3 linked regions of the Homo sapiens genome follow. The gene in region 2 interacts genetically with the main gene of each other region. Each region holds a gene or a part of one and is shown on either strand. Other genes may lie near its edges. The genes, in order: LCK, CRYBB1 and PLA2G4C.

Evidence for each region.
Region 1: changes in CRYBB1 (region 2) and LCK together harm fitness more than expected from each alone (negative genetic interaction), as found in Homo sapiens cells (one large-scale study listed by BioGRID).
Region 3: changes in CRYBB1 (region 2) and PLA2G4C together harm fitness more than expected from each alone (negative genetic interaction), as found in Homo sapiens cells (one large-scale study listed by BioGRID).

What each region holds. Positions count from the first base shown.
Region 1 is NC_000001.11:32,271,617-32,275,264, reverse strand, and holds part of LCK (tyrosine-protein kinase Lck), read right to left. Parts: intron 1,145-3,648; exon of another isoform or gene 1,068-1,144; coding exon of another isoform or gene 936-1,067; coding exon 831-935; intron 529-830; coding exon 447-528; coding exon of another isoform or gene 273-446; coding exon 182-272; intron 1-181. UniProt on the Homo sapiens protein: Non-receptor tyrosine-protein kinase that plays an essential role in the selection and maturation of developing T-cells in the thymus and in the function of mature T-cells. Plays a key role in T-cell antigen receptor (TCR)-linked signal transduction pathways.
Region 2 is NC_000022.11:26,611,528-26,615,175, forward strand, and holds part of CRYBB1 (beta-crystallin B1), read right to left. Parts: intron 664-3,648; coding exon 545-663; intron 1-544. UniProt on the Homo sapiens protein: Crystallins are the dominant structural components of the vertebrate eye lens.
Region 3 is NC_000019.10:48,051,700-48,055,347, reverse strand, and holds part of PLA2G4C (cytosolic phospholipase A2 gamma isoform 1 precursor), read left to right. Parts: intron 1-298; coding exon 299-470; intron 471-2,200; coding exon 2,201-2,351; coding exon of another isoform or gene 2,352-2,355; exon of another isoform or gene 2,356-2,394; intron 2,395-3,648. UniProt on the Homo sapiens protein: Calcium-independent phospholipase, lysophospholipase and O-acyltransferase involved in phospholipid remodeling with implications in endoplasmic reticulum membrane homeostasis and lipid droplet biogenesis.

The sequences.
Region 1 (3,648 bases), on a different chromosome or scaffold from region 2:
CTCAAAGACCCCTCCACCCCTTAAGCCAGCCTCCCCCAACCCTGGCTCAGCAATACTGAGCCTCGAATTTTGTCCCAAGGGCGGCCACCCCGAGCTGGTCAAGGGCCGCAGGAGGGCTGCGGGTCGCGGAGATCGCCGCTCCCTCACGGACTCCGCCAGAGCAAGGTGGAGAGGGACTCACTGCTCCAGGATGCGGAGCTGTTCCCCCTTCTCAAAGCCCAGATCTCCGTCGTGAGAGGGCTCATAGCTGTGCAGAGCGATAACCAGGTTGTCTGTAAAGACAAGGGGCATCAGGGAGAACCGAGCTGGGATCGGCAGGAAGCCTGGAGTTACAGGGTGGGGGACAAGGAAGGCAAGACCGGGGAGAAAGTAGGTGGGGGAGAGGTGGAAGCCAACAGCCAGGGATCCGCAGGCCTTGTCTTTCAGGCCCTGCTGCCTGGGGTCACCTTGCAGTGGGGAAGCCGGCGGATTGGAGCCTTCGTAGGTAACCAGTGGGTCCCGCACCTCAGAGCCATTTCGGATGAGCAGCTGTGGAGTGGGGGATGAGGGTGGGGTCAGAAAGCAGAAGATTGGGTCAGACCCTGGCCCCCTTCCCCCCTGCTCTGCTCTCAGCCTCTCCAGCCTGGTTAGATGTTATCCCTGAGTTTACCAACTACTTTCTGTGTGATCTTAGGAGATTCCCTTCCCCTCTCTGGGCCTCTTTTCCTTTCTGTATTTCAGGGGAGAGGGCCACTCTATTCTTTCAAGGGCCTGTAGTGCTGGTCATTTCTTTCTCCTGGGTTGCATTCTCTACCCAACTCCCTCACCAAGGCCCCTGTCTCGCCTCTTACCGTGCCCTTGCCATCCAGTGGGACTATGGGATAATGGCAGTTCTCACACACATCGATGTTTTCCATCCAGTCATCTTCCGGGTGTGAGCTGCAGCCACAGCCCATGGTCCCTGAGGGAATGGAAGAGGGGGCTGAAGGGGCTCCCCCAAGATCTGCTCCCCCAACATCAGATATAATGGGGCCTTGCCCTGGAAAGTTCCAAAAGTACCTGAGATTGTGAGATCCTGGGATCCCCATTCACCAGCCACAGAAAAGCTAAAATAGGGGGTCCCAGCTCCAAACCGGTGCTCCCTCTGAGCCCTCAGGCTACAAGTAAATTCACACACGGCCCCTGAGCCCTAGCCCCACCCTCCCACCTGGGATGGGCAAACCGCCACAGGCACCTTTGTTAGTCTAGTTACCCACTTCCTGCCTCTGCCCCCTCCCTCTCCCTCTGCCAGTACCCTGTGTTGGGAGGACCACCTCCTAGAGATGACACACACTTTCCCAAGCCTGGGAGAGACCTGACTTATCAGACCCTCCCCTACTGGAGAGGTGTGCACGCCACACCTCCTATTATAATTCCCCTGTCTAGCTGAGGAGGCTGAGAAAGAGGCTTCTGCTCCCGAAGTCCACCATCAAGCCCCCGCTGTTCCCCTCACACAGCCCACAGTCATCTCACAGGGTTCCTTCAAACACGGGCTTGCTTCTCCCCAGCAGAAAACCCTCCAGTGACTCTGTTGGCCATAACTTTTTTTTTGTTTATTTGCCTGTTTTAGCAGTGGAAATTTTTTGTCTGATGAAATCAAGCAGAACTCCATAGATAAAGTGATAAATGTGTGCCTGTTTTGCCTGAAGCAGAGTGGGGCCCTCACTTTGAAGCCCCCGGAGTCCCTGCAGCTCCTCCTTCTCTAGGGCTGCTCCTCAGAGTGCTTGGAAAGCGCTGTCCTCAAAGTTTAATGTACCATGCATTCCAGACCTTTCATATCAAGATGAAATCCACCTCCGCAGTCTATTCTGCCACACACACACTCTCTCACACACACACACTCACACACACCCTATACATATACACACCCTACACACACACACTCTCACACACACACACAGAGGCACCCCCTATCCCACCTCCACAGAGGCATCCACACACACACACTTTCACATAAACACACACACTCACCCCTCACAGGTACTCCCCCACACACTCACACACAGACTCACCCTCCCACACACAGGCACCCACACTCACACTCAGTAAACACATACACTCACCCTCCACAAGTGCCCCCCCACACACACACTCACCCCCCACACACAGGCACCCACTCTCACACACGTACCCACACACACATTCATGCACACACCCTATACATACTCCCCCTACACACACAGGCTCCCACACCCAGGAACACACACACTCGTCCACACACCCACACAGTCACACCCACATACACACACACACGCATTCACCCCCACACACACGCACTCACCCCACACACACACATTCTCCCCTCCCCAACACACATTCATACACACACACAGGCACCTCCACACACTCACCCACACCCATGCACACATCCACACACTCACCTTACACACACACACAGGCATCCCCTCCATAGATACCCCCACACACCCACACTCACACACACACAAACACCCACACACAGGCACCCCCACACACCCCCACACACACAGCCTGTGTTCTGAACTATTCTTGCCTTTCCCAAACACCCCATGCTATTTTCTTACTTAATGCCTTTGTACTTGTGGTTCTCCCTGCTTTGAAATGCGTGCGCTCTCTCGCTCTCTCTCTCTCTCTCTCTCTCTCTTTCTCTCTCTCTCTCTCTTTCTCTCTCTCTCTCTCTTTCTCTCTCTCTCTTGAGACAGGGTCTCCCTTCCTCTCCCAGGCTGAAGTGCAGTGGCGCAATCCCCTTAGACCTCCTGGGCTCAAGCAATCTTCCCACCTCAACCTCCCCAGTAGCTGAGACTAAAGGTGCACACCATCATGCCCAGCTGATTATTTTTTTGTAGAGATGAGGTCTCACTATGTTGCCCAGTCTGATCTCGAACTCCTGGGCTCAAGCAATCCTCCTGCCTTGGCCTCCCCAAATGCTAGGATTATAGGCATGCACCACCGAACCCAGTCGGCATGCTCTCTTTTGTCCAACTGCTGAATTCTAACTCAACCTTCAAGGCTCAGCTGAAATATTACCTTTTTTTTTTTTCCTGCAACCTCTACCTCCCAGGTTCAAGCAATTCTCCTGCCTCGGCCTCCTGAGTAGTTGGGATTACAGGCATGCACCATCACGCTTGGCTAACTTTTGTATTTTTAGTAGAGACAGGGTTTCACCATGTTGGCCAGGCTGGTCTCGAACTCCTGGCCTCAAGCAATTCTCCTGCCTCAGCCTCCCAAAGTGCTCGGATTACAGGCACCTGGCCTAAATATCACCTAGTCTGAAGACTTCCCAATGCTCTTTGCTTCCCTCTCACCCCAGTCTCCTGCAACATTCTATTCAGACCTCAATAATCAACTTAGACACAGAGTTCCATGATTACTGATTTACATGTCAGCCCCAGGGTCCCACTGCCTCTCCCATACCTTTGATGAGAGTGGGGGTTCATCAAGAGCAGAAGCTGTAGTTTATTTGTCTGAAAGCCACCAGCACCCAAAATTAGTTAATAAATGTCAACTGGAACATGCAGTGTTAATGCATAGAGTCTCCCATCTGCAAAGGTCTTAGAAACCAGCAAGCCTAATCTCCAATTTTATTATTTGTTGATTTATTTTTGAGATAAAGTGTCACTCTCTTGCCCAGACTGCAGTGCAATGACCCAA
Region 2 (3,648 bases):
GCAGTGGCGCAATCTCGGCTCACTGCAAGCTCCGCTTCCCGGGTTCACGCCATTCTCCTGCCTCAGCCTCCCGAGTAGCTGGGACTACAGGCGCCCGCCACCACGCCCGGCTAATTTTTTGTATTTTTAGTAGAGACGGGGTTTCACCTTGTTAGCCAGGATGGTCTCGATCTCCTGACCTCGTGATCCACCCGCCTCGGCCTCCCAAAGTGCTGGGATTACAGGCGTGAGCCACCGCGCCCGGCCGGGCTAGAGTTTTTGCTATAGTAGAAGCAGCATTTCTCCAGAGCCCAGAACCATGGCTTACTGCCAGTGTGATCTTATGCTAATTGGATCACCTCTCCGAGCCTCAGTTTCCTCATCCGTAAAATGAGATTGAGAACAATTCCTCCCTCTTCAGTTTGATATGAGGATTGGACATAATGTATGTGCCAGGAGTACGAACGGCCGCAGGCACAGAGCAGATGCTGGAGAAATGGCAGCTACTGTTGTGTGGTCATTTTACTGTGGCAGAGAGTGTGCCCCTCCGCCGCCCAGTACTCACGGTCCCGCGGAGACAATGATGCTGCGCACACGGTCGAAGCCACGGTCTGCCAGATTTGAGCACTCCCCCGAGAATTCTGCTCGACGGCCCTGGAAGTTTTCCAGTTCGAAGACCACCAGCTGCAGGAGAGAAGCCCCCATGCCAAGGGCAGAGTGAGGGGGGAGTCAAAAATTCATTAAGTATCTACATAAATAAAAGCCAGCAGTGCAGGAGTCACATAAAAGTGTGATGAGCCACAGTTTGTGAAATGATCCTGTCCTCCCATCCCCCAATTCTTTACTGATTTTTGTTTTTTGTTTGTTTGTTTGTTTTTCTGAGTCTCACTCTGTCGCCCCAGCTGAAGTTCAGTGGCGCAATCATGGCTCACTGCAACCTCCGCCTCCCAGGCTCAAGCGATCCTCCCACCTCAGCCTCCGAGTAGTTGAGATTACAGGCACCCACCACCATGCCTGGCTATTTTTTGTAGAGACAGGATTTTGCCATGTTGCTCAGGCTGGTCTCGAATTCCTGAGCTCAAATGATTGGCCTGCCTTGGCTTCCCAAAGTGTTGGGATTACAGGCATGAGCCATTGCACCTGGCCTCATGCCCTAATTCTGAAGCTAAGATCTGCGCCATCATTAGGAACTTATGAACCTCCCTTTCAGGCCTTTCTTTGTGCTATTCCTCCTGCCTGGAATGCCTTCTCCACCACACATATCCAGCTTGGAGCTCCCACTGCCTAACTGAAGTTCCCTAATACGCATTCCAGCTCGTTATTCTGTTTTAGGCTCAGGTGCCACCTTCTCCAGGAAGCCTTCTCTGATTGCCCCTTCCTCCATCGGCCTTGGTTGAGCATCCCCCACTGTCCTCTCCCCATTAGCAGCACAACTAACCCACCACACAGTCACTGCTGTTTTGCTTTGGGGTCTCCCTCTCTCTCTGCACTCCCTCTCTCCCATTACCCAGCCCCTCCAAAGACCAAGGACTCCTCCAGGGCAGGGCCTGAGGTTGATCAATTTCTGTATCTCCAGCCCCAGCCCCAGTACCTGCCACAGAGCTGATGCTCAGGAGACACTTGCAAATCCAACCCTCCACAACATAGGGGAAAACTTGAGCTAATCTTCTCTCCTCACTAAGCCTCATGTTTGGTTCCTTGTCCACTTGCTGTTCCAAGTTGGGACAACGTTGCCATTCACATGGACCAAGGCACAATTTTCTGCCTTCTTTGAGCCTCAGTTTCCCCAGCTGTAAGAGGAGGGGAGGTTCATATAACCATGACCCAGCACTTCCACTTCTACCTTTGGTTGCCCAAGAGAAACTCCTGTATGTGTGCCCCGGGATGTTGCGGGAAGTCAGGGACCCCAAACGGAGGAACTGGCTGAAGCCATGGCAGAAGAACGTGGATTGTGAAGATTTCATGGACATTTATTAGTTCCCCAAATTAATACTTTTGTAATTTCTTATGCCTGTCTTTACTGCAATCTGTAAACATAAATTGTAAAGATTTCATGGACACTTATCACTTCCCCAATCAATACCCTTGTGCTTTCCTATGCCTGTCTTTACTTTAATCTCTTAATCCTGTCAGCTGAGGAGGATGTATGTCGCCTCAGGACCGTGTGATAATTGCATTAACTGCACAAATTGTACAGCATGTGTGTTTGAGCAATATGAAATGTGGGCACCTTAAAAAAGAACAGGATAACAGCAATTGTTCAGGGAATAAGAGAGATAACCTTAAACTCTGACCGCCAGTGAGCCGGGCAGAACAGAGCCATATTTCTCTTCTTTCAAAAGCAAATGGGAGAAATATCGCTGAATTCTTTTTCTCAGCATGGAACATCCCTGAGAAAGAGAATGCGCACCTGGGGTTAGGTCTCTAAACTGGCCCCCCTGGGCGTGGTCGTCTCTTATGGTCGACGCTGCAGAGATGAGATAGACTCCAGTCTCCCATAGCTCTCCCAGGCTTATTAGGAAGAGGAAATTCCTGCCTAATAAATTTTGGCCAGACCGGTTGATCTCAAAACCCTGTCTCCTGATAAGATGTTATCAATGACAATGGTGCCCAAAACTTCATTAGCAATTTTAATTTTGCCCCGGTCCTGTGATCCTGTGATCTCTCCCTGCCTCCACTTGCCCTGTGATATTCTATTACCTTGTAAAGTACTTGATGTCTGTGACCCACACCTATTCTCACACTCCCTCCCCTTTTGAAACTCCCTAATAAAAACTTGCTGGTTTTTGCAGCTTGTGGGGCATCACGGAACCTACTGACATGTGATGTCTCCCCCGGACGCCCAGCTTTACAATTTTTCTCTTTTGTACTCTGTCCCTTTATTTCTCAAGCTGGCCGACGCTTAGGAAAAATAGAAAAGAATCTATGTGAATATCGGGGCAGGTTCCCCGATACCAGGAGACAGGGATAAGAACGTCCAAGCCATGCTGTTCACGAGAGCAAAGCTAGCAACCACTGAAATCGTGCTTAGCAGGAAAGAGATGGTCACGCTCTGAAATATCAGGCAGCAGCCAGAATGAATGGCCGGCAGTCATGCGCAACAATATGGATGGATATTAGGGATCTCATAGTAAGTGAAAAGTACAAAGAAAAGCCCAGAATAATCACATTGCATATTTCAATAAATTAAAAACAAGTAAATCGGCCAGTTGCGGTGGCTCACACCTATAATTCCAGCACTTGGGGAGGCGGAGGCTAGGAGTTCGAGACCAGCCTGGATAATATGGCAAAACCCGTCTCATAATTCGGTCTCAAAATAAATGAATAAATAAAACAAGTAAATAAATATACATGTGTATGTGTGTATACATTTTTAAAGGAATAATGCATAAAATTGTATACAAAAGCAAGCAAGCAGATTACAGACACAGGTTGAGGATAGGACAGTATTTCCTGGAGTTGGGGAGGAAAATGATGGACTCAAGGGAGACACCTTAGAGTTAGGTAGAAAGTTTTTAACCAAGTCCTGGCTTTTATATGGGTGGTGGGTTTGTAGGTGCATATTGCATTATTAGAAATTAAATAAAACTAATGATTAAATAGGTACATAAATAAAAACCTGCCACGCACTGACCACATGAGAGCGTGTCATGAACTAGGGGTTGCAAA
Region 3 (3,648 bases), on a different chromosome or scaffold from region 2:
GGATTCAAAGCCTCATCTAGGCACCATTTTCCTTGCCCTCTGAGTCCCGCAGCCCCCAGCCCCAAAGGTTACTCTCTAACCTCGCGAATGTTGTCTCTAGGTGGGCTGGGGAGTGCGGGTGATGGCAGAGGCTTACTCTTTCCCTTACAGAAGATGTTGTCCCTGTCCAAGCTGACCCTTGCTCTGTTGTGTGTCTGGGCTGTTAGCTGAGGTCCCATTGGGTCTCCAGGCCCCAGGGGTCTTCTGGAGGGGTCTTCTGGAGAGGTCTTGCAACCATTTCTTATTGCCTCCTTCTCAGACCATCCGGGCTACCACTGACTACTGCCGCCGCCACAAGATCCCCTTTCCCCAAGTAGAAGAGGCTGAGCTGGATTTGTGGTCCAAGGCCCCCGCCAGCTGCTACATCCTGAAAGGAGAAACTGGACCAGTGGTGATGCATTTTCCCCTGTTCAACATAGATGCCTGTGGAGGTAGGTGCAGGGGAGGAGCAGGTGAGAAGCCACCTGTATTAGTCCATGCTCACACTGCTAATAAAAACATACCTGAGACTGGGTAATTTACAAAGGAAGAAGGTTTAATTGACTCACAGTTCAGCATGGATTGAGAGGCCTCAGGAAACTTACAGTCATGGTGGAAAGCGAAGGCCAAGCAAGTCACCTTCTTCACAAGGCGGCAGGAAGGAGAAGTGAGTGCCAGCAGGGCAATTGCCAGATGCTTATAAAATCATCAGATCAGCCGGGCGCGGTGGCTCATGCCTGTAATCCCAGCACTTTGGGAGGCTGAGGCGGGCGGATCACAAGGTCAGGAGATTGAGACCATCCTGGCTAACACAGTGAAACCCCATCTCTACTAAAAATACAACAACAAAAAAAAATAAATTGCTGGGCTTGGTGGTGCGTGCCTGTAATCCCAGCTACTCAGGAGGCTGAGGCAGGAGAATCGCTTGAACCTGGGAGGCGGAGGTTGCAGTGAGCTGAGATCGCGCTCCTGCACTCCAGCCTGGGGACAGAGCAAGACTCCTTCTCAAATAAATAAATAAATACATACCATCAGGTCTCGTGAGAACTCAACTCACTGTCACGAGAACAGCATGAGGGTAACCACTTCCATGCTTCAATTACCTCCCACGACACTTGGGGATTATGGGAACTACAATTCAAGATGAGATTTGGGTGGGGACACAGCCAAACCATATCACCACCAGGCCAGGCCGAATGGAGCTGTGCTGTGCCCTGGGGACATCTTGTTACGCTCCAACATCTGATGGTTGAGTGAGTCATCCTGTCCACCCTTGGGCCTGGAGGATGCCAGGCTGCCTCTCTCGGTCTTGCATGTTTATGCATGTTGCTGCCTCTCTCTGCAGCCTTCTTGTCCTACCTGAATATCCAACCCCTTCCACCTGGGCATCCCACATTCCTCATCCAGTCTCAGGTGAGCAGCTGCTTGGAAGGCCTAGCATCCAGGATGGGTGGTCCTCCGGGGCCTGATTGTGCCACTTCCCACAGTGGGCTCCTTTTAGCTTGTCAATCGTGTCTCCTGCGATGAGACTCCCATTAGGGATAAATTGTGTCTGTTTTCTTCCTTCATTTAACGAACATTTATTGGTTACCTATGCTGCATCAGCCATGGTTCCAGGAGAGGCAGGCTAGAGTAGTAAAGAAGACAGGAAGCAGGGGGCCAGGCGCGGTGGCTCACGCCTGTAATCCCAGCACTTTGGGACGCCAAGCCGGGGCAGATCACCTGAGATCAGGAGTTTAAGGCCAGCTTGGCCAACAGGGTGAAACCCCGTCTCTATTAAAAAATACAAAAAATTAGCCAAGCGTGGTGATGCACGCCTGTAATCCTAGCTACTTGGGAGGCTGAGGCAGGAGAATCGCTTGAATCTAGGAGGTGGAGGTTACAGTCACCCAAGATTGTGCCATTGGACTCCAGCCTGGGAGACAAGAGCGAGCCTCTGTCTCAAAAAAAAAAAAAAAAAAAAAAGAAAAAAGGACCGGAAGGGGCATGGATCATAAAAATATAGATAAATCCATAACCTCATGTGTCAATAAAACTTTATTTATAAAGCCAAAGTAGTGGGCCGACTGGATTTGGTCCACAACTGTAGTTTGCCAAGCCCTGATGTAAATAGACAAAAATCTGCAGAATTAATTGTCCAAACTCATGATGCCTTTTCTTTGTTGGTTTGGTTATGCTTCAGGTGATATTGAGGCATGGAGTGACACATACGACACATTCAAGCTTGCTGACACCTACACTCTAGATGTGGTGGTGCTACTCTTGGCATTAGCCAAGAAGAATGTCAGGGAAAACAAGAAGAAGATCCTTAGAGAGTTGATGAACGTGGCCGGGTAGGTGGGAGACCATAGTCGCTCTGATGCCTATGCTCGTTCAGTAAGTATCTGTTGGAGAACTTTCTCTGCAACAGGCAGGAGGGTTGCATGGGTGAAAAAAGATAGGCAGTGTCTCCCCTACTTGAGCTTGCGTCTCAGCAGGGGACAGACCATGAACAGGGTCAGGAGTGAATGGTTTTCTGAAGAGTGAAGCAGGCTGTGTTCGTTTGCTAGGGCTGCTGTAACAAAATACCACTAGCTGGGTGGCTTCACAGAAATTGATGGTCTCATGGTGCTGGGGGCTGGAAGTGTGAATTCATGGTATCAGCAGCGCTGGTTCCTTCTGGGATCTGTGAGGGAGAATTTGTTCCACGCTTGTCTCCGTGTATATTGGTCCGTTTTCACACTGCTGTAAAGAACTACCTGAGACTGGGTAATTGATGAAGAAAAGAGGTTTAATTGACTCACAGTTCCGAAGGCTTAACAGGAAGCATGGGTGGGAGGCCTCAGGAAACTTACAATCATGGTGGAAGGTGAAGGGGGAGCAAGCACATCTTTACCATGGCAGAGAAGGAGAGAGAGAGAGCAAAGCGGGAAGTGCTACACACTTTCAAACAACCGGATTTCATGAGAACTCCGTCACTATCACAAGAACAGCAAGGGGGAAGTACGCTCCCATCAATCACCTCTCACCAGGCCCCTACCCCAACACATGGGAATTACAATTTGAGATGAGATTTGGGTGGGGACACAGAGCCAAACCATATCTCTGTGAAAGGAAAATGAAATCTCAGGACCCCAATTCACTATGCCAAAAGGAAAAACTTAAGCTGTGGCTGGGCACTGTGGCTCATGTCTGTAATCCCAGCACTTTGGGAAGCCAAGACAGGAGGATCGCTTGAGCCCAGGAGTTCAAGATCTGCCTGGGCAACATAGTGAGACCAAGTCTCTACAAATAATTTTAAAAATTAGCTGGGTGTGGTAGCACAAGCCTATAGTCTCAGCTACTCAGGAGGCTGAGGTGGGAGGATTGCCGGAGCCCAGGAGTTTGAGGCTGCAGTGAGCTATGATGGTACCACCCCACTCCAGGCTGGGCGACAGAGCAAGACCTTGCCTCTAAAAAAAAAAAAAAAAAAAAAAAAATTAAGCTGAAAGCTTAATTAAGCTGAGTCATGCAAGAAACTGTCTTTCCTTTTGTTCCTAAGCCACAGATAAAAGGCCACAGATATCTCCACAGGTAACTTACTCTATCGATATGGTTTGGCTCTGTGTCCCCACCCAAATCTCATCTCGAATTGTAATCCCCACATGTCAA